5 linked regions of the Homo sapiens genome follow. The protein of the gene in region 2 interacts with the protein of the main gene of each other region in a pairwise test. Each region holds a gene or a part of one and is shown on either strand. Other genes may lie near its edges. The genes, in order: ST18, TRPV2, SLC44A2, ALDH1A3 and SDC3.

Evidence for each region.
Region 1: the proteins of TRPV2 (region 2) and ST18 interact in a protein complementation assay, tested with the Homo sapiens proteins (one study listed by IntAct).
Region 3: the proteins of TRPV2 (region 2) and SLC44A2 interact in a protein complementation assay, tested with the Homo sapiens proteins (one study listed by IntAct).
Region 4: the proteins of TRPV2 (region 2) and ALDH1A3 interact in a protein complementation assay, tested with the Homo sapiens proteins (one study listed by IntAct).
Region 5: the proteins of TRPV2 (region 2) and SDC3 interact in a protein complementation assay, tested with the Homo sapiens proteins (one study listed by IntAct).

The regions. Positions count from the first base shown.
Region 1 is NC_000008.11:52,398,607-52,404,330, forward strand, and holds part of ST18 (suppression of tumorigenicity 18 protein), read right to left. Parts: exon of another isoform or gene 5,095-5,724; intron 1-5,094. UniProt on the Homo sapiens protein: Repressor that binds to DNA sequences containing a bipartite element consisting of a direct repeat of the sequence 5'-AAAGTTT-3' separated by 2-9 nucleotides. Represses basal transcription activity from target promoters.
Region 2 is NC_000017.11:16,424,412-16,430,135, forward strand, and holds part of TRPV2 (transient receptor potential cation channel subfamily V member 2), read left to right. Parts: intron 1-1,687; coding exon 1,688-1,858; intron 1,859-2,310; coding exon 2,311-2,466; coding exon of another isoform or gene 2,467-2,478; exon of another isoform or gene 2,479-2,479; intron 2,480-3,037; coding exon 3,038-3,136; intron 3,137-3,905; coding exon 3,906-3,976; intron 3,977-4,405; coding exon 4,406-4,571; intron 4,572-4,788; coding exon of another isoform or gene 4,789-4,848; exon of another isoform or gene 4,849-5,724. UniProt on the Homo sapiens protein: Calcium-permeable, non-selective cation channel with an outward rectification. Seems to be regulated, at least in part, by IGF1, PDGF and neuropeptide head activator. May transduce physical stimuli in mast cells.
Region 3 is NC_000019.10:10,627,285-10,633,008, forward strand, and holds part of SLC44A2 (choline transporter-like protein 2), read left to right. Parts: intron 1-437; coding exon 438-511; intron 512-635; coding exon 636-720; intron 721-3,772; coding exon 3,773-3,857; intron 3,858-3,990; coding exon 3,991-4,101; intron 4,102-4,190; coding exon 4,191-4,251; intron 4,252-4,341; coding exon 4,342-4,465; intron 4,466-4,583; coding exon 4,584-4,667; intron 4,668-4,759; coding exon 4,760-4,872; intron 4,873-5,724.
Region 4 is NC_000015.10:100,881,746-100,887,469, forward strand, and holds part of ALDH1A3 (retinaldehyde dehydrogenase 3), read left to right. Parts: intron 1-3,521; coding exon 3,522-3,626; intron 3,627-5,724. UniProt on the Homo sapiens protein: Catalyzes the NAD-dependent oxidation of aldehyde substrates, such as all-trans-retinal and all-trans-13,14-dihydroretinal, to their corresponding carboxylic acids, all-trans-retinoate and all-trans-13,14-dihydroretinoate, respectively.
Region 5 is NC_000001.11:30,880,603-30,886,326, reverse strand, and holds part of SDC3 (syndecan-3), read left to right. Parts: intron 1-5,724. UniProt on the Homo sapiens protein: Cell surface proteoglycan that may bear heparan sulfate. May have a role in the organization of cell shape by affecting the actin cytoskeleton, possibly by transferring signals from the cell surface in a sugar-dependent mechanism.

The sequences.
Region 1 (5,724 bases), on a different chromosome or scaffold from region 2:
AGTTTTGATCCTGAAAGATCTGAAAAAATCCTGAACTTTGTCAAATGTTTTGTCTACATCAATTGAGACACAGAATTGAGATGTTAATTGAGAATAATCATGGAGTTATTTTCCTTCATTCTGCCAATGTGATGTATCACATTGATTTGTGTATGTTAAACCAAACATGCACGCCAGCAATAAACTTGGTCATGATGTATAATCTTTTTGATGCATTGCTGAATTGAGTTTGCTAATATTTTGTTGAGGATTTTTGTATTAACATTCATCAGAGAGACTGGCCTGTAGTTTTCTTTTTCTGTGGTGTCTTTGTCTGGCTTAGGTATCAAGGTAATAATGCCCTCATAAAATGCGTTAGGAAGTATTGTCTGTATCTCTATTTTTGGAAGAATAGAAGAATTATTGGTAATAATTCTTCTTTGAATGTTTGATAGAATTCAGCTCTGAAGCCAACTGGTCCTGGGCTTTTTTGGTTGGAAGGTTTTTAACTACTTCTTTATTCTCTTGATTTGTTATTGGTAAATTCAAGCTTTCTATTTCTTCCTGATTCAATCTTGGTAGGTTATATTTTTCTATAAATTTATTCATCTCCTCTAGGTTATACCATTTATTGGCATACAATTGTTCAGAATAGTTCCTTATGATCCTTTTTATTTCTGATGTGTCTGTTGTAATGTCTCCACTTTCATTAGTGATTTTATTTGTTTGAGTCTTGTCTCTTTTATTTCTTAGTCTAGCTAGAGGACTATTGATTCTGTTTATTTTTTTCAAGGAGCCAATTCTTTGTTTTATGAATTTTATCTATGGTTTTTCTGTTTTTTATTTATTTCTGTTCTGATCTTTATTATTTCTCTCCTGCTAACTTTAGGTTTCAGTTGTTACTCTTTTTTTTTTAGCTCCTTGAGGCATATTGTTAGGCTATTTATTTGGGATCTTTCTTCTTTTTTAATGTAGGCATGTATTGCTATAAACTTGCCTCTTAGTACTATTGTTGTTGCAGTTCATAGGTTTTCGTAGGTTATGTTTCCATTGTCATTTTTCTCCAGATATTTTTAAATTTCCTTTTGACTTCTTCTTTAACCCATTTGTTGCTCAGGAACATGTTTAATCTCCACATATTTGCGAATTTTTCAAGATTCCTCCTGTTGTCGACTTCTAGTTTCATACTGTTGTGGTTGGAAAAAAATGGTACATATAATTTCAATCTTCTATGGGACTGACATAGGGGCTTTCCTGAAGAATGTTCTATGTGCACTAGAAAAGAATGTTTATTCTGCTGCTATTAGATTGAAAGTTCCATATATGTCTGTTAGGTCCATTTGGCCTAAAGTGAAGCTCAAATCCAGTGTTTCCTTATTAATTTTATGTCTGATTGATCTATCCATTGATGAAAGGGGGGTGTTGAAGTCCCCAGCTATTATTGTATTGCTATCTAGTTCTTCATTCATGTCCATCAATATTTGCTTTATATACTTAGGTATTCCAATGCTGGGTGCATATATATTTCCAATTGTTTTGTCTTCTTAATAGGTTAGCCCTTTTACCATTACATAATGACCTTCTTTGCTCTTACAACAGTTTTTAACTTGAAGTCTATTTATCTGCTATAAACAGCCATCTCTGCTCTTTCAGTTACTATTTGCATGGAATATCTTTTTTCACTCCCTTCACTTTCAGCCTGTGTATGTCCCTAAAGCTACAATGGGTCTCTTGTAGGCAGCATAAAGTTGGATGTTGGGTTTTTATTCATTTAGACACCCTCTGCCTTTTGATTGGAAAGTTTAATCCATTTACATTCAGTTATTATTGATAATAGTTACTATTGATAGGTATTGACTTAACTCTTGCCATTTTGTTAATTGTTTTCGGTTGTTTTGTAGATTCTTTTTCCTTTCTTCCTCTTTTGTTGTCTGCCTTTGTGATTTGTTGATTTTCTGTAGTGCTAAGCTTTGATTCCCTTTTCTTCCTTATTTGTGTATTTGTTATAGTTTTTTGCTTTGTGTACCATGGGGCTTACATAAAACATCTTATAGTTATAATTGATTATTATAAGATGATAACTACTTAACTTTGATCACATAAAAATACTCTAGACTTTTAACCTCTCCCCTGTCATCCACAATTTATGTTTTTGTTGTCACAATTTACATATTTTTATATCGCATATTTCTTAGCAACTTAATGTAGCCACAGTTATTTTTGACCATTTTGATGTTTAACCTTCATACTAGAGAGTTGAAAGATTTACACGCCACCACTACAGTAATTACATATTCTGAATTTGACAATAAATGTACCTCTACTGGCGAGTTTTATATTGTCATATGTTTTCATGATAGTAATCATCATCCTTTTGTTTCTGGTTAAACAATTCCCCTAAATATTTCTTATAAGGCAGGTCTAGTAGTGATAAATTTTCTTAGCTTTTGCTTCTCTGGCAAAGACTTTATTTCTCCTTTATTTTTGAAAGTCAGCACTACTAAGTGTAATATTCTTGGCTGACAGGTTTTTTTTCTTTCAGCACTTTTAAGTATATTTCTCCCTTCTCTTCTGGCTTGCAAGGTTTCTGCTGATAAATCTGCTGACAGTCTAATGGAGATTTCCTGATATGTCATTTGACATTTTTCTCTTGCTGCTTTTTAAATTCTCTCTGTGTCTTTGATTTCTGACATTTTTATTGTAATATGACTTGGTGGGGCCCTCTTTGGGTTGAACCTGTTTGGAGATCATTAAGCTTCATAAATCTGCATGTCCATTTTCTCCCAAGACTTGAGAATTTTTCAGCAACTCATTTGTTAAATAAGTTTTCCATGCCTTTCCCCTTCTTCTCCCTCTAACAACCCCATATTTAAATATTTTGTCACTTAATGAGTGTCTTATAAATCCCATAGGCTTTCCTCACTCTTTTTTCCTCCTGACTAGGTTATTTCAAAAGACTTCTTTTCAAGTTCAGAGATTCTTTCTTCTGCTTGATCTAGTCTGCTGTTGAAGCTGTCAATTTTAAAATTTTATTCATGGAGTTATTCAGCTATAAGATTTCTGTTTGGTTAGTTTTTATGATAGCTATCTCTTTGTGGACTTTCTCATTCAGATCATGAATTGTTTTCCTAATTTTGTTGCATTGTCTATCTGTATTCTCTTGTTTCCTTAAAATTATTAGGTTTAATTCCTTTTTAAGCAATTTCAATTTCTTTGTGGCCAGTTACTAGGGAATTATGGTCTTCCTTTTGTGGTGTCATGTTTCCTTGCTTTTTCATATTTCTTATGTCCCTATGTTGATGCCTGTGCATCCAGTGGAACAGTTGCCTCTTCTAATTTTATAGAGGGCTTTCATAGGGAAAGACTTTCGCCTGTAGATGAGTCCTAGAGTGTCAGGTCAGCAGAGTACTTGGCTCTGCTTCTGAGTGGGTGCAGTAATGTAGTCTCTGTGCAGCTTCTTCAGCTGTGATTAATATCAGCAATGACTGCAAGTACCTCAGTGTCTTCGGCTGTAGGAGTTTGTGGCAGTGGTGGTGGCATGGTAGTTTGTTAGGGTTCTTGGCAGCAAGGGCATTAGGGGTTCTCCTGTTGTCATTTTCCCCACAGTGGGCACACTTAGCTGAGGGGATCCCTGTTATTATCAGGTGTGACATGGGCCACAGGCAGCCATAGCATCACTGTGTTCAAGGGCACATGTGATTGGAATGGCTGTAGAACTGGGGTCCTGGGCTCAGTGTCTTGTTGAACTACTGTGGCACCTGTGATGTGGGCACAGGTCCATTCTCTGAGGCACAGGTGGATGCAGGTCTCCCACCAAGCCAAGGACTGTGACTCTAAGGCATTTCCCAGTAGCTTGGGCCCAGGGTTCAAGGATGTAGCTGTGACTCTAATCCTGGAGATCAGGGCACAGCATTGACATGGCTCCAGGGAAGAAGGGGTGTTCTAGACGCTCAGTCCCCAGAGAGCAGGCGACAGCTGCAATTCAGGTCTTAGAACCAATAGGGCACAGTGGCAACTCAGGCATCAGAAGTGGGGGTACTGCATAGTGATGACTATGGTCCCAGAGCAGTGGGATACAGCAGTAGGTCAGTCTCTGTGACGCCAGGTGCAGTGGCAGCAAGGACCCAAGAACAGTGGAGCACAGTTACTGCTTGGGCTCTGGGAAGCAGGTGCCACTTCTGGAGTCAATTCAGACTCCAGAGGGCTGGCCCAGACCCAGGAAGGTGGGGCACGGCAGCTGTTCAGCCCAGGGGTGGGGCAGCACAGCTCAGCCAAGGCTGTTTCTCTGGGGGCCAGTATACCACATCAGCTCAGCACTATGGGGTGTGGCTGCTCTGCTGGGCTGGGATCCAGGAACCTGAAGAGCACACTGCCATAAGGGCTTGGATACCAGGGATGTAACTGCTCCCCTAGACCAAAGTTCCAACTTCCTGGGGGTGGGACATTGGGCTGGTTCAGGCACTGAAGTGCATGCCTGCTCCACTGGGCCTTGGGTCCAAGTAGCTGGGGCTGGGGCACAGTAGCAACTTGGATGGGGGAAATGGGGTGGCTTCTAGGTAGCTTGTTCCCAGGGGGTATGGAGTTGCTGCAGCTCAGTTGGGGAATGTTGCACTACCATGTTTGAAAGCATGGTGCAATGGTGGCCAGGCCTCAGGGATAAACAGATACAGTGGCTACTGGACCCCCAAGCAGGACACACTCTAGCAGTGGCTCTGGTTTCCAGATGGCACAGTGCAGTAGCAGCTTGGCCTACAAGAGTTGAGGCACAATGTGGGCTCCTTCTTTGGAGCAGTGCAGCTATGTGAACTCCAGGCAGCTCCCCAAGCTGAGCTCAGGGACCTTGAGGACTGTAGAATTCTCCAGTGGTGAAGACTGCTGGTGTCCACAATGGTAATAGGGGCTGCTGGGTACCTCCTGCTTACCTTTTCCCCCCAGGAAGGAGTCCTTCCTGGTTCTGAGCTGAATAAGAGAATGGGGTGGCACAGGTGGGGTGGCAAGGGTGTGGCATGATTCCTCCTCTTCTGTATGAGCCCATACTTAGTGTTTGTGCTCCACTGGATTTCTGCCACTCCTGCTGTACTCCCGCACTCTTCTTCAGCCACTGTGGTCAAAATGTAGTTGTTTATTCATTGTTTATTCATTTTTTGTGGGGGTAGTCCAGGAAATGGGTGTTGGGCACTTTTAGTCAGCCATCTTGCTGATATCACTCCTCTCTAACTCTTAATATGATTGTAAGTAACTTAAACATCAGCAAAATTAATCATGCCTTGGTAAATTACAAACTATAAAGTAAAAAGAACAGAAACACTGGTGATCAGTTACCAGGCTTTTCCCTCCTAGCAGATACCAAACCTGGTCACTGATGGAAAGGGCTTCTGGTCTAACATTTGATGTAAATCTTCTAGTGGCTACCATTATATCTAAACAGCATAATAGTTTGATTTTTGGTTTGGCTACCAGATAAATCACACTGATTATCAATTCTGAATAAGATCTATTGCCGCCTTGCCATGAACAATGAAAAATAGTAAACATTTATGACAATCTCATAAAGGATAGTAATGCTGAAAGAAAGCTTTCTAAGCCACCATTAATTAAAAATAAATAAATTTGATTAACCACATTAGAAAAAGATTGGATTAGCTTTCCATTCTTTCTGTATAAAATATTATAAGAGCATTGTCAATAAAGGGCTTTTGAGAGAATTAAACGAGACAGCACATTCAAAGCACTGAGACCCATCCT
Region 2 (5,724 bases):
GGCCTCCCAAAGTGCTGGGATTACAGGCACGCGCCACTGCACCCAGCTAATTTTTTGTATTTTTAGTAGAGATGGGGTTTCACCATGTTGGCCAGGCTGGTCTTGAACTCCTGACCTCAGGTGATCTGCCCACCTCGGCCTCCCAAAGTGCTGGGATTACAGGTGTGAGCCATGGCACCCGGCCAAACATTGGGAATTTTTAAAAGTCGTTTGTGTTTCTTTATTAAGAGATAGCCTTTTTATATCTTTTGCCTATTTTGCTATTCTGTTTCTGCATATTTATTGATAACTTTATAATGAATTTAGTATTTTGTCTACCATAGCACTTGTAAAATTTCTCCTAGTTCATCATTTGTCTTTTGAATTTTATGTTTTTTTTGCTATACAGGATTTAAAAATTTTTATAATCTGCAAGTGTGACTATCTTTTCCTTTAAGGTTCCATGGTTTTGCTATTGTCTAATTCCTGCTACAAGATTTTATATATATAATACATATTATATGTACATAATATATGTTATAACTATTATACATTATATTATACATTATAATTATATATAGTATATATATAATCTTCATACCCATATTTTCTTCCAAACTTTTGCAGCTGCATTTTTTTTTTTTTTTTTTTGAGATGGAGTTTCGCTCTTGTTGCCCAGGCTGGAGTACAATGGCGCGATCTCGGCTAACTGCAACCTCCGCCTCCGGAGTTCAAGCGATTCTCTTGCCTCAGCCTCCCGAGTAGCTGGGATTACAGGCATGTGCCACCACGCCCGGCTAATTTTGTATTTTTAGTAGAGACGGGGTTTCTCCATGTTGGTCAGGCTGGTCTCAAACTCCCGACCTCTGGTGATCCACCTGCCTCAGCCTCCCAAAGTGCTGAGATTACAGGCATGAGCCGAAACGCCCAGCCTGCAGCTGCATTTTTAATGCCTAGAGCTTTGACTAGCTGGAAGTTATTCTGGTAGGAAGAGTAAACATGAGGCAGCCCCCACTTTGTTCCAGATAGCTTACCAATGGCCTGTTCCAAATAGCTTTTGCCAATAGCTCACCAGGGCTGGCCTCATGGGCTTACAGTGGAGATTTTTGAAAGATTAAGGAAACGATAAACATAAATAGAAGTTTTAACCCTTTTTCGCTGCCCTCCCAAGTTTTTTGGAGTGCTCCCTGGGGTGTGTGAACCTCACTTTCTTGTCTAGAGGCACTGCTGTGTGGCCTATGAAAGCAGTGTCCTGATCTGTTCCTCCTTTCCCATTCCTCACGCGTGAAACCAGACTGCTTCCTAACCTGTTTGGATTAGGGACCACTTTCTAGTCTGTTGAAAATTCTAGATTCTGACCGCGAAAGTGCACACACAGATACAGCTAGTAGACTCTGATCTCAGGGGCCTCAAGGACCCCAGGGCTAGGGATCAATCTGCCATTTGAGGAGTTCAAGGAAGGCCACAGGGCAGGGGAGGGGAAGGAAGAGCCAGGCTGGCTGGCAGGCTGGGGCAGATGTGGCTGGGTGCGTGTGTGTGTTTAAGAGTTTAGACAAACAAGGACCTGCGTGTATGGGGGTACGTGCACGTGTCAGCTGCAGCTCTGCAGACCGTGGGCAGCTGCTGAGTCCTGGGTGTTTCCCAGCCTTGGCCCAGGATCAGTGCCAGGAAGGGACCATGAATGCAAGCTCATATGGCCACCCTGCAGATTTTCAGGCACATCCTGCAGCGGGAGTTTTCAGGACTGAGCCACCTTTCCCGAAAGTTCACCGAGTGGTGCTATGGGCCTGTCCGGGTGTCGCTGTATGACCTGGCTTCTGTGGACAGCTGTGAGGAGAACTCAGTGCTGGAGATCATTGCCTTTCATTGCAAGAGCCCGGTGAGCCCACAGGAGCATGGGTGCACGCAGAGGACCCAGCAGAGTTTCCAGCAAGGTCCACAAATTGGGGCTGCCTGCTGGACCATATCTGCCCCATTCCTGTGCCAGTGGGGGTGTGGCTGCATGTCCCAGCAGGCACGACCCTGACCATGGCCACCGGGCCCATACTCAATCCATACTCTAGTCCCATCCAAGACGGGGATCATGCCAAGGGCCTCGTGGCAACCATCCGGGTCCTCTCTGTTAACCAGCATCTCATTTGGAGGGCAAGCCCCTTAGTCACACTGTAGCTGGGAGGGTTGGCGTGAGGTCCTTTGGGGCTCCTGGGGTGTGGAAGCCTGCTCCCTGTCCTCTCTCCTCATTTCCTGGGCCCTTGCTTTGATCTTGACATGGAGTGGGCAGCCTATTTGCACTTGTTGAGTGTACCCATGGCTCTCCCCTCCCCACCCCAGCACCGACACCGAATGGTCGTTTTGGAGCCCCTGAACAAACTGCTGCAGGCGAAATGGGATCTGCTCATCCCCAAGTTCTTCTTAAACTTCCTGTGTAATCTGATCTACATGTTCATCTTCACCGCTGTTGCCTACCATCAGCCTACCCTGAAGAAGGCAAGGGCGTGAGGTTTGGGGGGGCACATCTTGGGGGAGGCCTGCTTGAAACAACCCTGGGGGAAGATGGGGCAGTAATAGTGCTGAGGCATGGGCTGCTGGAGTGACATTCCCAAGCTTATGGGAGCCAGCACTGCAGTACTAACGGTGATACAGTGAAGATTTGCTGAGTGCTCACTGTATGTGAAAAAGGATTCTAGGTGATGGACATGTGTTGACTAATTAATGTGCCCCAAAACCCTTGAGATGGTGAATTATAATCACCCCCAGTTTATAGTAGAGGGAAGGGAGGCACAGAGAGGTTAAGTAACTTGCCCAGGGTCACACAGAATGGAAGTGGTGTGGAGAGGGAATCTGAATCCAGGGAGTCTGGCTTCAGACCCTACACTGAAATGCTACACAATGTGCCTCTCAGGATCCAGGGGTCCTTCCCTGGAGCCCATGTTCCCATGCCGTTCTGAGGAGCCTCTCCACAGCTCAGGCTCAGAGTAGGCCCTCAGCTTCAGCTCTGAAGGGTGAGCTGTTCGAGAGAGGACCCAAGGCCCTAGGTCTCATCTGAGTGTGTCTTCAGCAGGCCGCCCCTCACCTGAAAGCGGAGGTTGGAAACTCCATGCTGCTGACGGGCCACATCCTTATCCTGCTAGGGGGGATCTACCTCCTCGTGGGCCAGGTGAGTGCCCCTCCCCTTCTCCTACCAAGAAGCAAACCTAGAATTCTGCTTCAGGGGGCTTAGAGAAAGTTAGCTGCATCCCCTCACTGACAATACCCAGTCCCACCCAGAGCAACCAGCCTCACTGAAGCTGAGGGCCAGAGGTTCTGGCCTTGCCTTCTGAGTCCCCAGGAACCCCTCTGCTGTGCTTTTGGGGTTCCTTGGGGTAGCAGATAGCTTCTCTGATTCCTTGGCAGTACAGACTCTGCTCCCCCAGGAATGGAGCTGGAAGCGCCTGCCCCTAGCCAGGCCCCTCGGCTGGGAAGCTCCCCTCTTGGGGAGCACAGAGACCAGAGGTAGGTGGGGTTCAGGCTATTTCCCCCAGTAGGGCCTCTTCAGTGGGAAATGCTGTAAGCCTGCAGGACACAGGCTGGACACCAAGACATTGGGACCTCCGCAGAGTGGGCAGAACTTGGGCACCAAACGCAGGTTGGCTGGGGTATGGGTGCTCCCTGTGAGGCCAGGGAGAAGGGAAGGGAAAGGTGCTCTTCCCCTTCCTGCATGCAGTGCACAGGCTCTTCACCTGCACCCCCCGGCCTTGCCTAGGTGGCTGCTCTTTCTGGAAAGAAAGTCCCAAGCTATCTCAGCTATCAGAAGTATTCATGAGTCCCCCAAAACCAAAGCTGCTGACTTAGCTCTAGCCTGGGTGGCAGGCTCCCACTCAGCCAGGCCAGCAGGGGGCATGCGGGAGAGCAGGTTTCACAGCCCTCTGTCCTCCCTTCCTCCGCAGCTGTGGTACTTCTGGCGGCGCCACGTGTTCATCTGGATCTCGTTCATAGACAGCTACTTTGAAATCCTCTTGTACGTGGGTTCTCACTCCTCCTTCTCTCAACTGTCTCTGAGGTCTGGAAGGGGCAGTTGTGGCAGAAGGCACCAGGTTGGCTTTAGAGGCGAGGACACGGGGCCCAGGAAGTCGGGATCTGTGTACAGGCCAGTCCCAGGAGTCTGGGCTGCCGTCCAGCCTGGGGCCCCTTGTGCTCCCATCACTGTAGATGGTGATAGTGACATTTACTAGGCCTCGGCACATACCTGTTTCACTTAGTCCTTGAAAACACTCTATGAGTCAGGCATCATTATTATTATGCCCATTTTACAGTGGGAGGGAACTGAGGCCCACAGAGGTTAAATGTCTTGCCTAAGATGGAGGTCAGGACCTTGGTCAGCATAGGCCAGTGGGGGCTCAGGGAGCCAAGTGGCCCGCAAGCCCACCTGGATTCTGCTCCCACACAGCCTGTTCCAGGCCCTGCTCACAGTGGTGTCCCAGGTGCTGTGTTTCCTGGCCATCGAGTGGTACCTGCCCCTGCTTGTGTCTGCGCTGGTGCTGGGCTGGCTGAACCTGCTTTACTATACACGTGGCTTCCAGCACACAGGCATCTACAGTGTCATGATCCAGAAGGTGAGAGAAGGGGGTGGCCCACCGGGACTCTTTTGGCCTCATCAGGCAAGAAGAGCCTTCCTCCACAGCTATCCTAGGCAGAGGAGGGCATGTGTACATCTGCCTGTGCGCCAGCACTCAGATGCTTGCTGGATGGAAGCTTAAGTACAGGCCTGCACATACCTCTCTCAGGGCTCTGCATGCACACGCAAACAAACGTACATATGTGTGTTTGCAGGTGTCCACACGGGAGCATGTGCATCCTTCCACAAGCAAGGAGCAAAGAATATGTGCATAAGCTCATCTGCATGTCTGTGTCCTGCGATGTGTGGGCGCGGGCATGTAACTGCATTCATTTATGTATTCAGCGCATGTTTAGGGAGTGCCTACTGTGGGCCGGGCCCTGTTCTAGGTGTTGGGAATATAGCAGAGAACAGAACAAGTCCTTGCTCCCCTGAAGCTGATGTTCTGGTGGGAGGAAATGAAAACCTTAAGAAAACAACTGAGAACATTCCACACTGCTAAATTCTATGAAGGAAAAAAAAGCACAGGACAATGTGATGCAGAATGGCTGGGACCAAGTACCCTTTAGATGGGATGGTCTGGGAAGCCTCTCTAAAGAGGGGATGTTTAAGTTGAGACCTGAAAGAATGATTCAGCCACAGCAGGGTGAAGAGGAGATATTCTCAGCAGAGGGCACAGCAGTGGCTGCCACGAGCCAGAAGGAGCTTGGGGTGCTTGGGACAGGGTGAGGAGGCTAGGTGGCTGGGGAGATGGCAGGAGGGTGGAGGTGAGGAGGTTGGGAGGAAGGGAAGGGCCAGGGGCCCCTTCCACGGGGAGGGATTTGGAGGTCCCCAGAGGCTTTTTTTTTTTTAATTGTAGTAAAATACACCTAACATGGAACTTTTTTTTTTTTCTTTGAGATGGAGTCTCACTCTTGTTACCTAGGCTAGAGTGCAATGGCACCATCTCAGCTCACTGCAAACCCCTACTCCTGGGTTCAAGCGATTCTCCTGCCTCAGCCTCCCGTATGGCTGGGGTTGCAGGCACCCACCACCATGCCCGGCTAATTTTTGTATTTTTAGTAGAGACAGGTTTTCACCACGTTGGCCAGGCTGGTCTCAAACTCCTGACCTCAGGTGATCCGCCTGCCTTGGCCTCCCAAAGTGCTGGG
Region 3 (5,724 bases), on a different chromosome or scaffold from region 2:
CACTCCAGCCTGGGCGACAGAGTGAGATTCCCTCTCAAAAAAAAAAAAAAAGTCTAGCTTGGGCAACATAGCGAGACCTTGTCTCTACAGAATGTATATAAATTAAAAAAAAAATGTGTGGTGGTGTGCACCTGTAGTCTCAACTACTTGGGAAGCTGAGGCAGGAGGATCACTTGAGCCCAGGAGTTCGAGGCTGTAGTGAGCTATGATCATGCCACTGTACTCCAGCCTGGATGACGGAGTGAGACTCTGTTGCACAAAATTAAAAAATGAAATGAAATAAAAATTAAAATGCATGTGCCCTTTGGTACGGCATTCAAACGACTCAGGAAAATTTGTCCAAATAACACATGGATGAGGGTGTTTGCAGAGGGCAGATGGGCCCATGGTGCACACAGCACCAAGCCTCCTCCAAACACTGCCCCTCTGCTCCCCAGGGGCTGCACGGATATCATATGCTGTGTGTTCCTGCTCCTGGCCATTGTGGGCTACGTGGCTGTAGGCATCATAGGTGAGTAGAGAATGAGCAGGACTTGGAGTTGCAGGGTAGGCGGAGGCAGCCATGGCCTCTGGAGTGGGAACAGGGCTGGATCTGAGGAGTGGCAGTGTCTCAGTATCCCTGGATCTTTCCACAGCCTGGACTCATGGAGACCCTCGAAAGGTGATCTACCCCACTGACAGCCGGGGCGAGTTCTGCGGGCAGAAGGGCACAAAAAACGAGTGAGTTGACTCCTTGCGGCCTGGTGGGGCTGGGGAAGAGGGGGCAGAAGATTCTAGGCATTCCCCATCTCTCTAAGTCCAGTTAACAAGTGCTTATAGGCTGGGCGCGGTGACTCACGCCCGAAATTCCAACACTTTGGGAGGCCGAGGCAGGAATATTGCTTTAGGCTAGGAGTTCGAGACCAGCCTGGCCAACATGGCAAAACCCCGTCTCCACTAAAAATACACAAATTAGCCAGGCATGGTGGCACATGCCTGTAATCCCAGCTACTCAGGAGGCTGAGGCAGGAGAATCACTTGAACCACAGGAGGCAGAAGTTGCAATGAGCCGAGATCGTGCCACTGCACTTTAGCCTGGGGCACAGAGTGAGACTCTGTCTCAAAACAAACAAGCAAAAATTAAGTGGACGTGGTGGGGCACACCTCTAGTCCCAGCTACCCAGCAGGCTGAGGTGGGAGGATAGCTTGAGCTGGGAGGCCAAGGCTGCAGTAAGGTATGATTGTACCATTGCACTCCAGCCTGGACGACAGAGCGAGACCTGGTCTCAACAAAACAACAAGAAAAGAAAACAAGTACTGATAAACGTCCCACTACCCTCAGCCACTAGTCTAGTCCTTGGGGACACACAGCTCTAAATGAGATAGTAAGCATCCTGTTCTCTGGCAGCACACATTTTAAGGGCGGGAGAGACTGAGAGGGGACAGTCCTGGATTACGCGTCAGGTGGTGATGAACAGGTGAGACAACAGAGCAAGCATAGCCTGAGTGGCGTCACTTCCTGGCTCTGTGACCTAGGGCAGGTGTCTCAATCTCTCTGAACCTCGTTTTCCTCATCTCTAAAATGAGGATCATAACAGTCCCACCCTCATGGGGCTATTTTGATGGTTAGATGTGCCAATACATGTACAGAGCTTAGAATGCCACCTGGCATCGCTGGGCGTGGTGGCTCACACCTGTAATCCCAGCACACTTTGGGAGGCTGAGGTGGGAGGATCAAGACCAGCCTAGTCAACATGGTGAAACCCCGTCTCTACTAAAAATACAAAAAAATTAGCTGGGCATTGTGGCATGTTCCTGTAATCCCGGTTACTCAGGAGGCTGAGGCAGGAGAATTGCTTGAACCTGGGAGGCAGAGGTTGCAATGAGCCGAGATCGTGCCACTGCACTCCAGCCTAGGCAACAGAGCAAGACTCCATCTCAAAAAAAAAAAAAAGAATGGCACCTGGCATAGAGTTGCTGATGCTGCAGTTTTTAAACTATTATTATTATTATTATTACTATTATTATTTTGAAACGGAATTTTGCTCTTGTTACCCAGGCTAGAGTGCAGTGGCACAATCTCAGCCCACTGCAACCTCCGTCTCCCGGGTTCAAGCGGTTCTCCTGCCTCAGCCTCCCGAGTTGCTGGGATTACAGGCATATGCCACCATGCCCAGCTAATTTTTGTATTTTTAGTAGAGACGGGGTTTCATCATATTGGTCAGGCTGGTCTCGAACTCCTGACCTCAGGTTATCTGCCTGCCTTGGCTTCCCAAACTGCTGGTATTACGGGTGTGAGCCACCACACCCGGCCTATTATTATTATTACTATTATTATTATTTTGACACAGTGTCTCACTCTGTCAGCCAGTGGCAGGATCATAGCTCGCTACAGCCTGGAACTCCTGGGCTTAAGCGATCTTCCCACCTGGGCCTTCCAAAGTGCTGGCACAAGACAGGCCTGAGCCACCCTGCCTGGCCCTATATAAGATATCTTTTTTTTTTTTTGAGACAGAGTCTCGCTCTGTCGCCCAGGCTGGAGTGCAATGGTGCGATCTTGGCTCACTGCAACCTCCGCCACCCAGGTTCAAGCAATTCTCCTGCCTCAGCCTCCTAAGTAGCTGGGATTACAGGTGCCCGCCACCACACCCAGCTAATTTTTTGTATTTTTAGTACAGACGGGGTTTCGCCACGTTGGCCAGGCTGGTCTCGAACTCCTGACCTCAGGTGATCCGCCTGCCTTGGCCTCCAAAAGTGCTGGGATTACAGGTGTGAGTTACTGCACCCGGCCATATAAAATATCTTAAAGGAAACAATAGGCCGGGCACGGTGGCTCACGCCTGTAATCCCAGTACTTAGGGAGGCCCAGACTGGAGGATTGCTTGACACCAGCCTGGGCAACATGGTGAAATTCTGTCGCTACCAATAATAGAAAAAATTAGCCAGGTGTGGTTGCGCACACCCGTAGTCTCAGCTGCTCAGGAGGATGAGGTGGAGGATCACTTGATCCTAGGAGGTAGAGGCTGCAGTGAGCCAAGATTGTGCCACTGCTCGCTCTGTCTGGGCAACAGAGAAAGACTCTTGTCTCAAAAAAGAAAAAAAAACAAAAGAGGCCGGGCGCAGTGGCTCACGCATATAATCCCAACACTTTGGGAGGCTGAGGCGGGTGGATCACCTGAGGTCAGGAGTTCGAGACCAGTGTGGCCAACATGGCAAAACCCCGTCTCCACTAAAAATACAAAAATTAGCTGGGCATCGTGGCGGGCACCTACCTGTAGTCCCAGCTACTCGGGAGGCTGAGGCAGGAGAATTGCTTGAACCCAGGAGGCGGAGGTTGTAGTGAGCCCACATCACACCATTGCACTCCAGCCTAGGCAACAGAGCAGGACTCCATCTAAAAAAAAAAAAAAGAGAAAAATAAAAAAAGTTTTCTATAGGGTGGTTAAGAAGTCTTAACAGGTCGGGTGTGGTGGCTTACACCTGTAATACCAACACTTTGGGAGGCCAAGGCAGGCGGATCACCTGAGGTCAGGAGTTTGAGACCAGCCTGGCCAACATGGTGGAAACCCCATCTCTACTAAAAATACAAAAATTAGCCGGGCTTGGTAGCGGGCACCTGTAATCCCAGCTACTCGGGAGGCTGAGGCAGGAGAATTGCTTGAACCCGGGAGGCGGAGGTTGCAGTGAGCCGAGATCACACCATTGCACTCCATCCTGGGCAACAAGAGCGAGACTCTGTCTCAAAAAAAAAAAAAAATCTTAACAGTTTCCATTCTCCCTTCTCTAACTCCAGGAACAAACCCTATCTGTTTTATTTCAACATTGTGAAATGTGCCAGCCCCCTGGTTCTGCTGGAATTCCAATGTCCCACTCCCCAGGTAACCTGGTCCCCACCGTTCCCTTTTTCCTCTCCCCGCTTCCCATCCTTTTCCCCCTGTGAATGTGGGCTGCGACCTCAGTCCTGAGCAGTCTGCCCCAACTCCACCCAATCCCTTCCTTCTCCCCTCCCAGATCTGCGTGGAAAAATGCCCCGACCGCTACCTCACGTACCTGAATGCTCGCAGCTCCCGGGACTTTGAGTACTATAAGCAGTTCTGTGTTCCTGGCTTCAAGAACAATAAAGTGAGTTGTAGACTGTCCTGAGAGCACAGGTATGGGCAGTGGCAGTGTACTAGACTTGGGGACTCACCTCCCTCCATCTCTCTTGGCAGGGAGTGGCTGAGGTGCTTCAAGATGGTGACTGCCCTGCTGTCCTCATCCCCAGCAAACCCTGTGAGTCAGGGGATCCCAGGAGGCTCAGGTGGTGACGGGGAGGCTCTGCAGAGGCTCAGCCTGACTGGTGCCATCCTCTGCTCCATGCAGTGGCCCGGAGATGCTTCCCCGCTATCCACGCCTACAAGGGTGTCCTGATGGTGGGCAATGAGACGACCTATGAGGATGGGCATGGCTCCCGGAAAAACATCACAGACCTGGTGGAGGGCGCCAAGTGAGGATATTGGCGCACCGCGCCAGGGTCTCACTTTGCTGGGTGGGACAGGCAATCCCCTGTGGTTGGCCTGATCATGGAAGAGGGTCTGACCCGAGCCTTGTCCTCCTTCCCCCAGGAAAGCCAATGGAGTCCTAGAGGCGCGGCAACTCGCCATGCGCATATTTGAAGATTACACCGTCTCTTGGTACTGGATTATCATGTAAGTCAGGAGGGAAGGGGCCTCTCCCCTGGCTGCCCCCTCTAAGCCTGGCTGAGGGTGGAGTCTGTTCATGACCGTTTTCTTTTCCCCAGAGGCCTGGTCATTGCCATGGCGATGAGCCTCCTGTTCATCATCCTGCTTCGCTTCCTGGCTGGTATTATGGTCTGGGTGATGATCATCATGGTGATTCTGGTGCTGGGCTACGGTGCGTCACCCCCTCCCTGTGGCTTCTCTTTCCTGAATCCGCACACTGCCCTGCCCTTTCCCGTGGAAATGGCCCATCAGGAAAACAAAAAAAAGTCAGGCCGGGCGTGGTGGCTCACGCCTGTAATCCCAGCACTTTGGGAGGCCGAGGCAGGCAGATCACCCGAGGTCAGGAGTTCAAGACCAGCCTGACCAACATGGAGAAACCCCGTCTCTACTAAAAATACAAAATCAGCCGGGCATGGAGGTGCATGCCTGTAATCCCAGCTACTCAGGAGGCTGAGGCAGGAGAATCGCTTGAACCTGGGAGGCGGAGGTTGTGGTGAGCCGAAATCACGCCATTGCACTCCAGCCTGGGCAACAAGAGCGAAACTCCATCTCAAAAAAAAAAAAAAAAGAAAAAATGTCTCAGCACCGTAGTTAAGGATGCATACTCTGGTATCAGAATAGCAGAGGTTCAAATCCTGGCTTTGCCAATTCTTTGGGCAAGTGCCTCAACCTAACTGTGCTTCAATTTCTTTCTTTTTTTTTTTTGAGACGGAGTTCTGTTCTTGTCACCCAGGCTGGAGTGCCATGGCGCGATCTTGGCTCACTGCAACCTCCGCCTCCTGGGTCCAAGCTATTCTCCTGCCTCAGCCTCCCAAGTAGCTGGGATTACAGGCATGCACCTCCATGCCCGGCTGATTTCGTATTTTTAGTAGAGATGGGGTTTCTCCATGTTGGTCAGGCTGGTCTCGACCTCCTGGCCTCAGGAGATCTGCCCGCTTCAGCCTCCCAAAGTGCTAGGATTACAGGCAGGAGCCACCGCGCCCGGACTGCTTCAATTTATTTCTCTATAAAATGAGGGTAATTC
Region 4 (5,724 bases), on a different chromosome or scaffold from region 2:
CTTGAGTGGTCTCCCAGGCGATAAAGGCCCCAACTGCCTGACACCGGCTGCTGGCTCCTCACCCGTTGGGGGACTGTGCTGCTGCCTGCTCTGTCCTGGCTCCTGGCCCATCTCTGCAGAGACCTCCCCATAGCAGTTGTGGACCCAGGCAGCTTGTGTGGCTGAGGGTGGCCAACCAGTGCCCTGGCACAGTCCTCAGGGAGACTGGACTGGAGAGGCGGCCGAGAGTGAGGCCACCAAGAGTGCCTGCCGAGGGAAGGAGCGGGATAAACTGAAGTGCAGGACTGAGGCCCAGAGTGGGCGAGTGGCCCGGCAGGTGGGTGGCCTGGCAGGAGAGCAGACGGTGGAGCATGGGAGCCAGCAGTGGTCTGCTATTTTCCAAAATTGACTCATGGTGCTTCTCGATAATGGGGCACACACCAGAGTTGGTCCATCTGAGCCCTAGCCCCGGCAGTGCCATTTCCCAGGGTGGTCCAACTTTCAGGATGACTTTGTCAAAGCCCCTTCATTTGTCCTCACATGTTAACATTTCATTCTCTAGGGTCATGCTGTGTGATTCTGGAGAGCTGAGAGCCCCTCCAGGGTCCCCACACAGATCTCAGAGGATAGAAGTCCCTTCTAATTTAGAGGGCCTCTTTCTTTCCTTATAAAATTTCTTCCAGTAGCAGGGATTCTCTTCAAAGTTTTCTGATTTTTAAAACACCGGTTTTTATTATCTCTCTTATGAAAAATAAAATTCCCCCAAATCTCCTTTTCTGAAAACATATTCTTTTTGAGTTTAGCTGAGTGGCCTGTTGTCAGATGGAAGTTACGGGAAATCGGCATCAATAGGATTCACTTGTATGACTGTCATCTTCACCTCTGCCTGAGACACCTTACAGCTCCGTCCTGCTTCCATGTCATTCTGTTCCTTTTGTAAAATGTGAACCAGGTCTACAGCTCAATGTAGCTTAATGCTATACCTCTATAAGGTTTGTTGTATGCTAATCCACAAATCAAAGACAACAATTCCTTCTAGACCCTTTACCCTGATTTGGAGTTCAAAACAATACAGCCAGCATAATCAGTAGACCATATTTATATACCCTTTCCTTATATTTGTGCTTTTGTTTTGTTTTAATGGAGAGAAAAATCAACAGTAGAAACCACTTACAAGATTACTTACTACTGTAGTGTGGTATAAAGTAAAAGATTTTACAAAATTAAAAACATAGTGATGGGAAAATATGGTTAGAGTCAAACAGTCTGATTTTTTTTTAAGGTTGCTGGTTACAGATCAATGTCATGAACAAACAGTAATTTTTTTTGGAGGAGCATGCTTGGAGATGAAGTATAGCAGTATAGCAGACATCCGATCATTGTAATCTGTTTTCAGCCCCCTTATTTATATTCTCTTCTGCCACCTTCTCATTTTCCCTCCCCCTTGGAGTTGATACCAGGAAGGACCTAGAATCAGCAATTTTCACTGACAGTCTCTATTATCTAACCCACGAAATTTCATCTTTCTACAAATGGGCCCCTCTTCCTGGCTGCACTTTCCTCCCCGCACTAACTTAACTCTTCTTCCTCAGTTATTAATTTCTCGCTGTTACCAAGTGATGACTTGCTGGATGGCAAAAGTGAACTCTTGGATTTAGTTTCAGCTGGAAGAATAAACCTGTAATTGTAGCCTGGCCTTTTCCTGGTGCGCTTCCCTGGGGGCCTGGCCTCACATTGGAGACGCTAAGCTTCCAGAAGCCAGACAGGCAAATCCCAATGGTGACCGATGCTCTCAGTTCTGGATTCCAAACTGGGGGGCAGCTGGTCTCTGCTCACCTGCCCAGCCAGAGTCTGCCTCCTGTGCTTGGTCCCCAACCGACTCAGACCAGGCTTCCTCACTATGAGCTTCAGAGGTTTTTGTGGGTTTTTTTTTTTTTTAACATTCTATCAACTTTTAAGTTCTGGGGTACATGTGCAGGATGTGCAGGTTTGTTACATAGGTAAACATGTGCCATGGTGGTTTGCTGCATGGATCAACCCATCACCCAGGTATTAAGCCGGAGCTGTGGAGTTTATACAGGAAGCCCAATACAGAGAATGTAACCAAGACTCATGCTTAGGAGATGGCTGCCCTCTCTCATCTGTCATCACTGGGGAGTCAAATGTTTCAAATGAATCAATTTCACAATAATTGAAATTAGCCCTTGAGGGACGCAATTCTTCCTTTAAACAATTCAAAAAGAAGCAAAGTAAAGCTATGTATACCACATGCAGATAGATGTAAAAACGGAACCTGATGAACTAATTCTGTACTCAGAAATTACTGACGGCATTTTACTTGAGAGACATGCGTGTCAGCCATTTCTGCCACGGGGGTTCTTCTGATGCTGTGATAGGCTGTGATGAGGAAGCCATTCCAAGTTGGTGTAGCAGGAGTTTGTGTGTCTTCTGGCTGGGCAGCCGGGGACCTCCGTGCTGTCGGAATGTGTTTTGTATATTGTCTGTCATGTCTCTTCCTAGTTTTTTCCAAAAGCCCTCTCTTTTAATATGACATTAATAAGACAATTAGAACTTAGTGTAAACTAACAGTAAATAGTACATATGTTTCAGTGCATGGACTTCGTATGTTCTTCTTAGTCTGCTCATGATGTCTTTTGTCAAAAAAACTTTCATTCTCATCTGCATTCTGGATCATTGAGGTTCCCAGAAAAGTGATTTCTGCGGGTTATATAAACAGTTATTTGCGACATCTCTTAATGTAACCTGGAAAGTTTCTAACCCAGACATTTAACTTTGTACTTCAACGCTGGTTTATTATCAAGCTTCGGAGGTTTTTCTGGGTTTTTTTTTTTTTTTGACATTTTATCAACTTTTATTTTAAGTTCTAGGGTACATGTGCAGGATGTGCAGGTCTGTGACATAGGTAAACATGCGCCATGGTGGTTTGCTATGAAAATACACATTTTAAGGGGAATGTGCTGGGGAGGGACATGCTGATGTGCATTGGTGAAAACTGAAGGGCGATGGTGAGATCCTCCTCAAAGTGAGCTCCTTGGCAATCAATCTTGCTGAGTGTTGCCACTGAAAGGAGAAAGGGAGTGCTCGGTGCGTCCTTACCCTTCAGGGGCAGGCGGACTGCTTGGGACTTTTATGTATATAAACCTATTGACTCTTCCCCCAAAGTCTATTGGGGTATGAGATTCCATTCACAGCCTCTATTTAACCATTTAACTTAGCCATTCCTCTGTGAATCCATGTTATTGCTGAAGATAATAATAATAATTTAGAAAAAAATCTCTAAGTGACTATAGTTTTATTTGACCAAAACTTGAATTTCGAGTCTGTCCTAGTTGATCTGTTGGTCATGCAGTCCTGGGACTCTGTTCCCCTCCGGGTCTCATCTATAAGATGTCGAAGGGGAGAGGGAAGCAGCAGAGAGGAAGGTGGACAAGATGGATAAGACGTCACCTAAGGTCCTTAGCATGTTGAAATTATATGATTTTGATCTAAACCTAATTGGTTACACTTCCTTTCCTGGTTAGATATTTATCAACAATGAATGGCACGAATCCAAGAGTGGGAAAAAGTTTGCTACATGTAACCCTTCAACTCGGGAGCAAATATGTGAAGTGGAAGAAGGAGATAAGGTAAATACTTAAAATAAATTTGCTCTAAGTAATTCAATTATGGATGACCAAAGGATAAGGAAACGGTTCGGCTTAGCTATAAGACAGAACTGGCCTATCCTGGGGGCAGGGCCTGGGCTAGCTGCGTGAATTGGCATGTGGTTCTCAGACGTGTGGCACAGAATGGCATCAATTACCGATGATCCTCTGCAGAGAATCATTCTCCCTTGATAGATGTTTCTCCTACTATGAGGATGACCTCAGCTATCCTCATCATATGGCTAAAGGAAAGGTTTTCTTTTTTCTTTTTTTTTTTTTTTTATCAATTATTTGGACCTGGAGGCATTAAAGAATCTTTCCAGAAAGCATTTCCCGCTGGTGTGTTTCACGAAATGAAGCTTTCTGGCAGAAGACACTTTAGAAAAAAATAGACACTTTGAAGGAAAAAAAATAGTTGCTACCCGGGTGATGCGGGGATAGTTAACAATGTAACCACCAGATTTCTTTTCTCCTAGAAATTTACATGAGCATGGAAAGCGGTAACCTTTATCACTCTATTTGCAAGTGCAAGGTCTATATAGTAATACAGAAGCTAAGGGACTTCCGAATGTGTCCTTTATACATTGCAAGGCCATCAAATCTATTCTGAATGTCAGTGCAGAGGTAAAGCCCTTCCACTGAGGGCAGGGAGATGTAAATGTTTCCTTAGCTGCTGGAGTGCTGGACTGATGTTCTTGGTCAGCAAACTGATGACGTTGGAAGTGGATGCAGTGAAGGGCGTGTGCAGAGTAGGCTTGGATTTTATCTTGCCCATGAGTTTTTGTGACAGACGTGCAAATGCACACTGGCCCCACCTATACAGACCCCCCTCTGTGTGGCACCTCATGACAGTTAGGCTCTGCTAACAAAGAAAGTGGCACAGAGGAGCTCATAGAAAAATGTGAGGGCATTGGGGGGAAGCCATGACATGGAATGGGGTTTCCACTAGGAGACTCCCAAGTGCCCCGTACAGGTGCTAGGAGGAGAACGAGACCCTTGCCCTGGGCCTTGATTTCTCCCTTGGTCTGAGTGACTGTTCTGAGCCAGAGGCCACCACACCCTCTGCAGCTGGAAAGGTCCTGGCCTCCACCCCAGAGCCTGGGAGAAGAAATTCAGTGTCCCACATCTCCCCTGCCAAGCTTCTGCTCACCCCCAAGCCAGCTCTGGACACACAGAGACTCGGTAGAGTCACTCCTGACTGGTGTCCCACATCCACTCCCTGCTGTACCTTCCTAGAAAGAGAGAGGCATGGAGGGGCCTTCGAGATGAATGTGGCCCATTTTCCTGAGAAAAAGAGACAGTGACACTACTCTAAATGGCCCTCACTTCTTTCCTTTTAGAAAGAAGGTTCCGTTGTGATTATTCTATCAGTGCACAAAAGATCCAGTTCTGCTCCCATGGGGTGGGTGAGGCTGAAGGGAGAAAAACGGCCTTCATGCTCCTCCCTGTCTGCGAACTGTTCCACGATGGTCAGTTCTGCAATCCAGAAAGGAAGGAATTTCCCCATTCTCACTCTTGGACCACAAGTTCCCAGCTGGGATCAAATGCCAGGCAGACACTTCCCACCTGATCTGTGAACAGCAGGCTCGTGTGCGTTCACACTGAGGCAGCCAGTGGAAAGTCCTTCCGTACTTGGGTCCCTGAGAAAAATACTCTTTAGGAAATATTTTTAAATGCTTTTTATAATCAGAAACAAACATTGGTATTTGGCCACTGTAGAAATATTAAGATGTAAAGAAGAAAAAAAATCACTTGAACGCTCCCAGCCATTCAAGTGATTGAAAAACATGCTGCTGCTTGCAGCCTGTCTGCCAGCGGGACAATCTGCTGTTCTCTATAACTGATGGCCGTGGTCCCAAACTGCAGTCACGTCAAAAGATGACACCCAAACTGCAGTCACCTCAAAAGATGACACCCAAACTGCAGTCACGTCAAAAGATGACACCCAAACTGCAGTCACCTCAAAAGATGACACCCAAACTGCAGTCACCTCAAAAGATGACACCGAAACTGCAGTCACTTCAAAAGATGACACCCAAACTGCAGTCACGTCAAAAGATGACACCCAAACTGCAGTCAC
Region 5 (5,724 bases), on a different chromosome or scaffold from region 2:
GCCAGCTTTGTGGGGACATATCTAGTGCCTAGGATGGTGCTTGGCACACAGTAGGAGCTTAATAACCATTGGTTTTACTGATTAACCAGCTGAGTAGGTGCTGGCCAGGCAGAGATGGTGGGGAAAGGTATTCCAGGAAGCAGGAACAGGCCTGAAGGAGCCCGTGTTCCCAGAACTGTAAATAGTTTTGTGTGGGAGGAGTATGGGGGTGGGCAGCTGGGAGTGGGGTGTGGGGGGTGCTGCTGGGTCTGGAAACGGGGCCTCAGTGGGTGGTCCTGCTCTCAGGCACGAGCTTGGGGACAGGCATCAATGAGCAGTGTGAGTCAGGGTGGCCAAGAGTGACGTGAGAGGGCAGGTGGCTGGGATTGATGGGGCGGTGACGGAGGCGTCCCAGCCCTGGGTTGAGGAGGGGGCCTGGCTTTCCCAGGGTTGCATTGTCAGCTTCTGTCTAGGCACAGGGGACAGAGTGGGCTGCTGTAGGGCAGCCAGTCTGCACCTCAACAGAGACTGGCCAGCCCGGCTGAGCCAGGAACAGGGCTGATGGGAGAAGGCGGGCGGGTGGGTGTCTGGGCACCACAGGCCAAGGTGGCCGCCAGACAGGCTGATGCCAGGGGAGGGAGCCAGGTCCTGCCAAGCCAGCCTGTCTGTGGTGAGACTCGGTTGGGCCGTGGGCCCTGCCAGCTCCCTCAGAGGCTTTTGTGTTCATTTCCTTTCCACCCCCCTTTTCAGTTTCCTCGTAAGGTCCCTCACGAACAGTCTCAATGGGGTCTCAGCAGAACCAGGGGACCCGGAAGTTTCACAGACCAGAGAACACCAGGGATGGAGACTCAGGGAGGATGTGCGCTCTCTAATAACAAAAGTGCTATGGGTTTATCGGAGAAATTGTGGAAAATACAGAAAGGTCCTGAGAAGAAATTAAAGCTGCCTGTAATCCCACCACCCAGAGAGAGCCTCTGGGAACCTTTAGTTATAATGCAGCATTTGGAAATTCACTTTGATAGTGAGTTCATTAAAACAGGATCAAGTTCTACATATTTTTTGTAACCTATTTTTTAAACATAATGATGATACTCATATTAATAGCCAGCATTTACTGAGCAATTTGTTAATGGGTGAACATGCCCAGCCTCCTTCTGTAAACCCCACGAGGTGGGCATTCTTATCTTTGTTTTACCAGTTAAAGCAGCCTGAGAGAGTTAAATATCTGCCCAAAGTCACATCGGAATTGAGAGAGCCATCTGCATATTCCTATCAACAGCTATACTGTCTTGTCTTCTGATGATCAATATGTGCATTTTCCTACATCCTTCAATATTCCTTGTAGCAAGTAAAAAAAAGCCTTCTATGACACATTTATGTCTTTTAATAACCTCATTAGACAGTGTAGATTTGTGAGAACTCAATTGTTGATAGCTGCGTAATATTCCATGTTATGGTTGTACCCTCATTTATTTAACTCGTCCCCTGTCGTTCAGTATGTGGGTTATTTCCATTTTTTCCCTCTCGTAAATTACATTGTCCTGGATCTCCTTGACCTAAGGATCAAATTCTTGGGAGTCCAGAGTGTCAGAATCAGAAAGGCCCTTAGACCACCATGCTTGGTTTTCCATTTTGCAAATGGGGCAAAGGAAAGGCAGAGAAGGGGGAAGAGGATTTGTCCACGGTCTTGGAGGCTGTGGGCGCCTGAGCCAGGGCTGCTACCTGCTCTCCTGTTGGGGCTGGGGTGGGGATGTGGGTGGAGGCAGGTGCCACAGTGGGAAAAAGGGCATCCTGGGGGGATGGTGGGAACACAGGGCTGGGTAGAGGGCAGACTGGAGGTGACAGGAGAGATACAGGCTTGGGGTAGGGAGGGCTCTGCTGCCATGATATCTTTGCAGAGGAGTTGACTGGGATGGGACAGGCCCAAAGGGAACATTTCCTGCCCTCTGAGCTGCCTTTGTAGATGGGAGTAGGGGGTGGGGATAGGTTTGGTTTGTGAGAGGCTTGAGTGTGTGAGTTGGGGCGAGTGGGAGGGTGTGTGTCTGGGCTTGGTGGATTTTTCTTGGGGGGGGTCTGTGGTGTTTCAGCTTGGCCTTCTCTGCCCTCCCCATTCCACTCCTCCCCGGGCTTCTGCTCTCTGGGACTTGGGCTCCATAGCCCCTTCCCCAGCAGGTGCAGTCCTCGTGCCCCTCATCTCCAGCCACAAGTGGGTGTGGGACTGCCGGCTTCCTGGCCAGGGCAGCTGTGGCTGGGTGGGGGTGGGGACTGAGACATCCCCCTCCTGGTCCCGGCTCCCAATTGTGCAGCCCCCTTGGCTGTCTTGCTGCCCGGAGCTTGGCCCCAGCCCACATTCCTGCGGTGATGCTCTGGGTCTCCGGGGTGGATCTGGTGAGCGTGAGGGGCACTGAGTTCTCACAGGACTGAGGGCTTTTTGGGGACGGAGCCTGCAGGGATCCAGAGGGCCATGCTGAGACACCCTCCCTCCCTGCCTCGAGGAGCTAGTAGTTACGTCGCTGTGTGTCTTTGGGCAAATCACTTTACCTCTCTGAATGCTTCGTGGCAGACTAACCCCGCCCCCTCCTTTCGTGATAAGCAAGGCTTTCCCCTCTCTGTGCCTCAGTTTCCACATCGGTAAAAGGGGAGAGTTGAACTCAGTGATCCCTCAGGCCCAGTGTAGCCTTGAAGTTGCAGCCTGAGGTGGGAAGTGCAGGCTGTAGGAATATAGACAAAGCCTTATACGGCTCCGACTGTGTGCAGGCATGATCTCACTTGATTCTCACAACTGCCCTATGAAGTATCATTGTTGGCCTCATTTAACCAAACAGGCTCAGAGAGGTTAAGTAACACATCCAAAGTCACCCAGCAAGTAAGCAGAGCTGAATTTGAATCCAAGACTGTCAGAACCTAAAGCTGGGCCCCCACCCCTTGCTCATGTCGCCTCTGGTCACCAGGAAAGTGAGGCCTGAGTCTGGCTAATTAGGGGAAGGAAGCTCGGGCAGAACTAATTACACTCGATTTTATTCTTGGCTTTTTGCAACATGATTAGCGCTGCACAGGGGTGCCGGGCTCCTGGCCCCCAGCCTGCTGACCTAATTTGTGTGCTTGTGTCTGTTTCTGTAACTTGCCCTTTCTCCCCCTTCATCCAACCTCTCTCTTTTTGTCTCTCTCTGCACTCTCCCCTGCTGTGTGGCCTTGGCAATGCCACTTAACCTCTCCGGGCATTAATCGTCTCATCTGCCTGGGTGTAGTCATCCCAATTTGGCTTCCCTCATGAGGAGGTTGAGGCTTACATGAGATAAAGGCTTCGAAATAATAATAGAAATTTTAACATAAACTAACAGCAATCGTGGCTACACTGATTTATTCATTTTTCACTTGGTGTCGGGTCCTGTGCTTAGCCCCTTCCCACAGCAATGCTATGAGCTGCGTAGTCTTCTCATCATCTCCATTTTACAGATGAGAAAACTGAGGTGCTGAGATTAAATGGCTTGCCTGACAGCCAACCGGGTAGTAAAGAGGAGCTGGTTCATTATGCTTTGCCTCTGTGCTGACCGGTTTCTCTAGGAAGGCTCATGGTGGTGTGGGGCTGGGCACGAGAGACCCCAAATTCTGGAGTGGGCTCTGAGAGAGGATGGGGTGGGAGGGATGCACTGGCCTTCCTGAACGTGTCCCCTGCACTCAGAGTGAGTGATGAGTGGGTGGGTAGAGGTAGCCGTGAAAGTGAGGAGACTTAGCTGACATCCAGCTCATTTGGACCCTCACCCATCACAGCCCTGATGGGGTGCTCCTGGGAGGGAGGGGGCTGGGCAACCTGGGAGGTGGCACCTCCTTGCCCCTGGCCCAGGGGAGCCTCCCCAGCTGCTGCTCTAAAACTCTAGGAGAGGATCGGTGGGAGTGGATGTGGAGTGAGGGGGCCTGTGGGTCACTGCTGGGCCTGGTCCCTTCTGGGCTGGGAGCCTGAGGTGCCTCTGTGGAGTGAGGCTGTGGGTTACTTCAGGAAGGTGTGGTGACTAGGGGACTGTGAGGAAAAATGGAAGCAGGGGGCATCAGTCCACTAGGAAGGGTGCCACATTTCATCCCGATGTGTGTGTGCACTTGTGTGTACCCGGAAGGAAAGTGCGTGTTTGCGCGCATGTGTGTGTGGAGGGAACTGAGATGCAGGTATTGTGGACCTGTTAATGGCATGTGAGGCGGGATGTATGTCTGCTGGGGCAGGTTCAGGGAGGGACAAGTAGGCTGCGCACATGTGGAGGCAGGGTGTTGGGAGTGCCTGGTGTGTTGGGTCCCGTGCTCAGCCCCTTCTCCTGCAATGCTATGAGCTGCATAGTCTTATCACCATCGTGTGCTGGCGCGTGGGTGTGGATGTTGGGTGGGCATGGACAGCTGTGGGCATTGCCGAGTTGATGTCATGCAGGGGGTGAGGGCAGCTGCGGGGCACAGATGTATGAATTTAGCCCTGGACAAGCAATGGGTCTGGGGGTGGCTCAGGAATGTCCAGGACAAGGGTTTCAGAGACAGAGGCCTCATGCCTGGATTCTAACCCCTGCCTCAGTTCCTGCATCTGTGGAATGGGGATGATAAAACCCTGGGCAGTTGTGATGCTTAAAGGAGGCTGCATAAATAACATGCTCCCAGCACCTGGCCTGGGGCAGGCCCTCAGCAGCAGCAGGCAGAGGTCTCTAGAGTGCCCTGGGAACGCTCAGCGGCTCCCCTGGGACCTGATGCTCAGGCCTTCATGGGCCGCTTGCGGAGCCTCTGCTGGGTGTCCCCTCCCGAGATCAGTGGTGGCCGGAAGCAGAAGGTTCAGTGCTTCCACCGGGCACGCTCGCTGTGTGTGGGGGGTGCAGCCGAGAGGAAAGGTTGTATCCGAGTTGTGAGGTTCATGTCTGAGTCAGAGGATGCACCTGCCGAGGGTGATGTCTAGGAGCGATGTGTGTTTAGGGAACATACGTGGCCATGGCGGTGGGTCCGTGTTGTGGGCCTTGGTGAGGTGAGTGTGGTGCGTGGGGTCAGGAGAATGTGCTGAGGTTTCTCGGGGGCATCCGTGGGGTGTGTGGTGAGGAGAGGAGTGTGTGTGTGTGTCTGTGAGTACCCTAGGGCATGTGTACAGGCAGCTAGGGGTGAAGTAGATGGGTGAGTGTGTGCTGGTGTGGGCTGGGCTGTATTGCCTATAGGCTGTGGTGAGTATACAGATTGGTGTGGGCAAACATTGCACTTAATAGTGTGTGTGTGTATCCATTGGGGTGCATAGTACATGCAGAAGAATATATATGCATGAGGATGTTGGGCTGTCGTGTGTGTGTGTGTGTGTGTGTGTGTGCATGCGTGCGCGCGTGTCTTGGGGGTATGGAAGCCTCCTATCAGGCATGGGGGGGTTGTGTTTACCTGGAGGGGGCACAGTGAGGGTCAAGGAGAAGCTGGCAGCGTCCTGGGGCTTTTGGATTCAGTTCTCCTTTAAGGGAATGGCATGGATAATTATGCTTATTATGATGGATTATGCAAATGCGGAGGTCGTTTGGGGGTCAAAGCCTGCTTGTCACCCTCCTCCTCAGGCATTCTGTGACTTCTAAGGCTTTCCCTGCTGCCTCCCAGGCTCCGTTCCCCAACCCCTATTTCTCTGTCCCCTCTGGGAGTTGCAGCTACCAGCACCCCCTCTGTAGTGTTCCTGAGAGGGCCTCATGAGTCCCAGCGCCCATGCCTGCAGGTCCCAGGTGTCCTCGCATTAAGTTCCCGCTGAGCATCCCA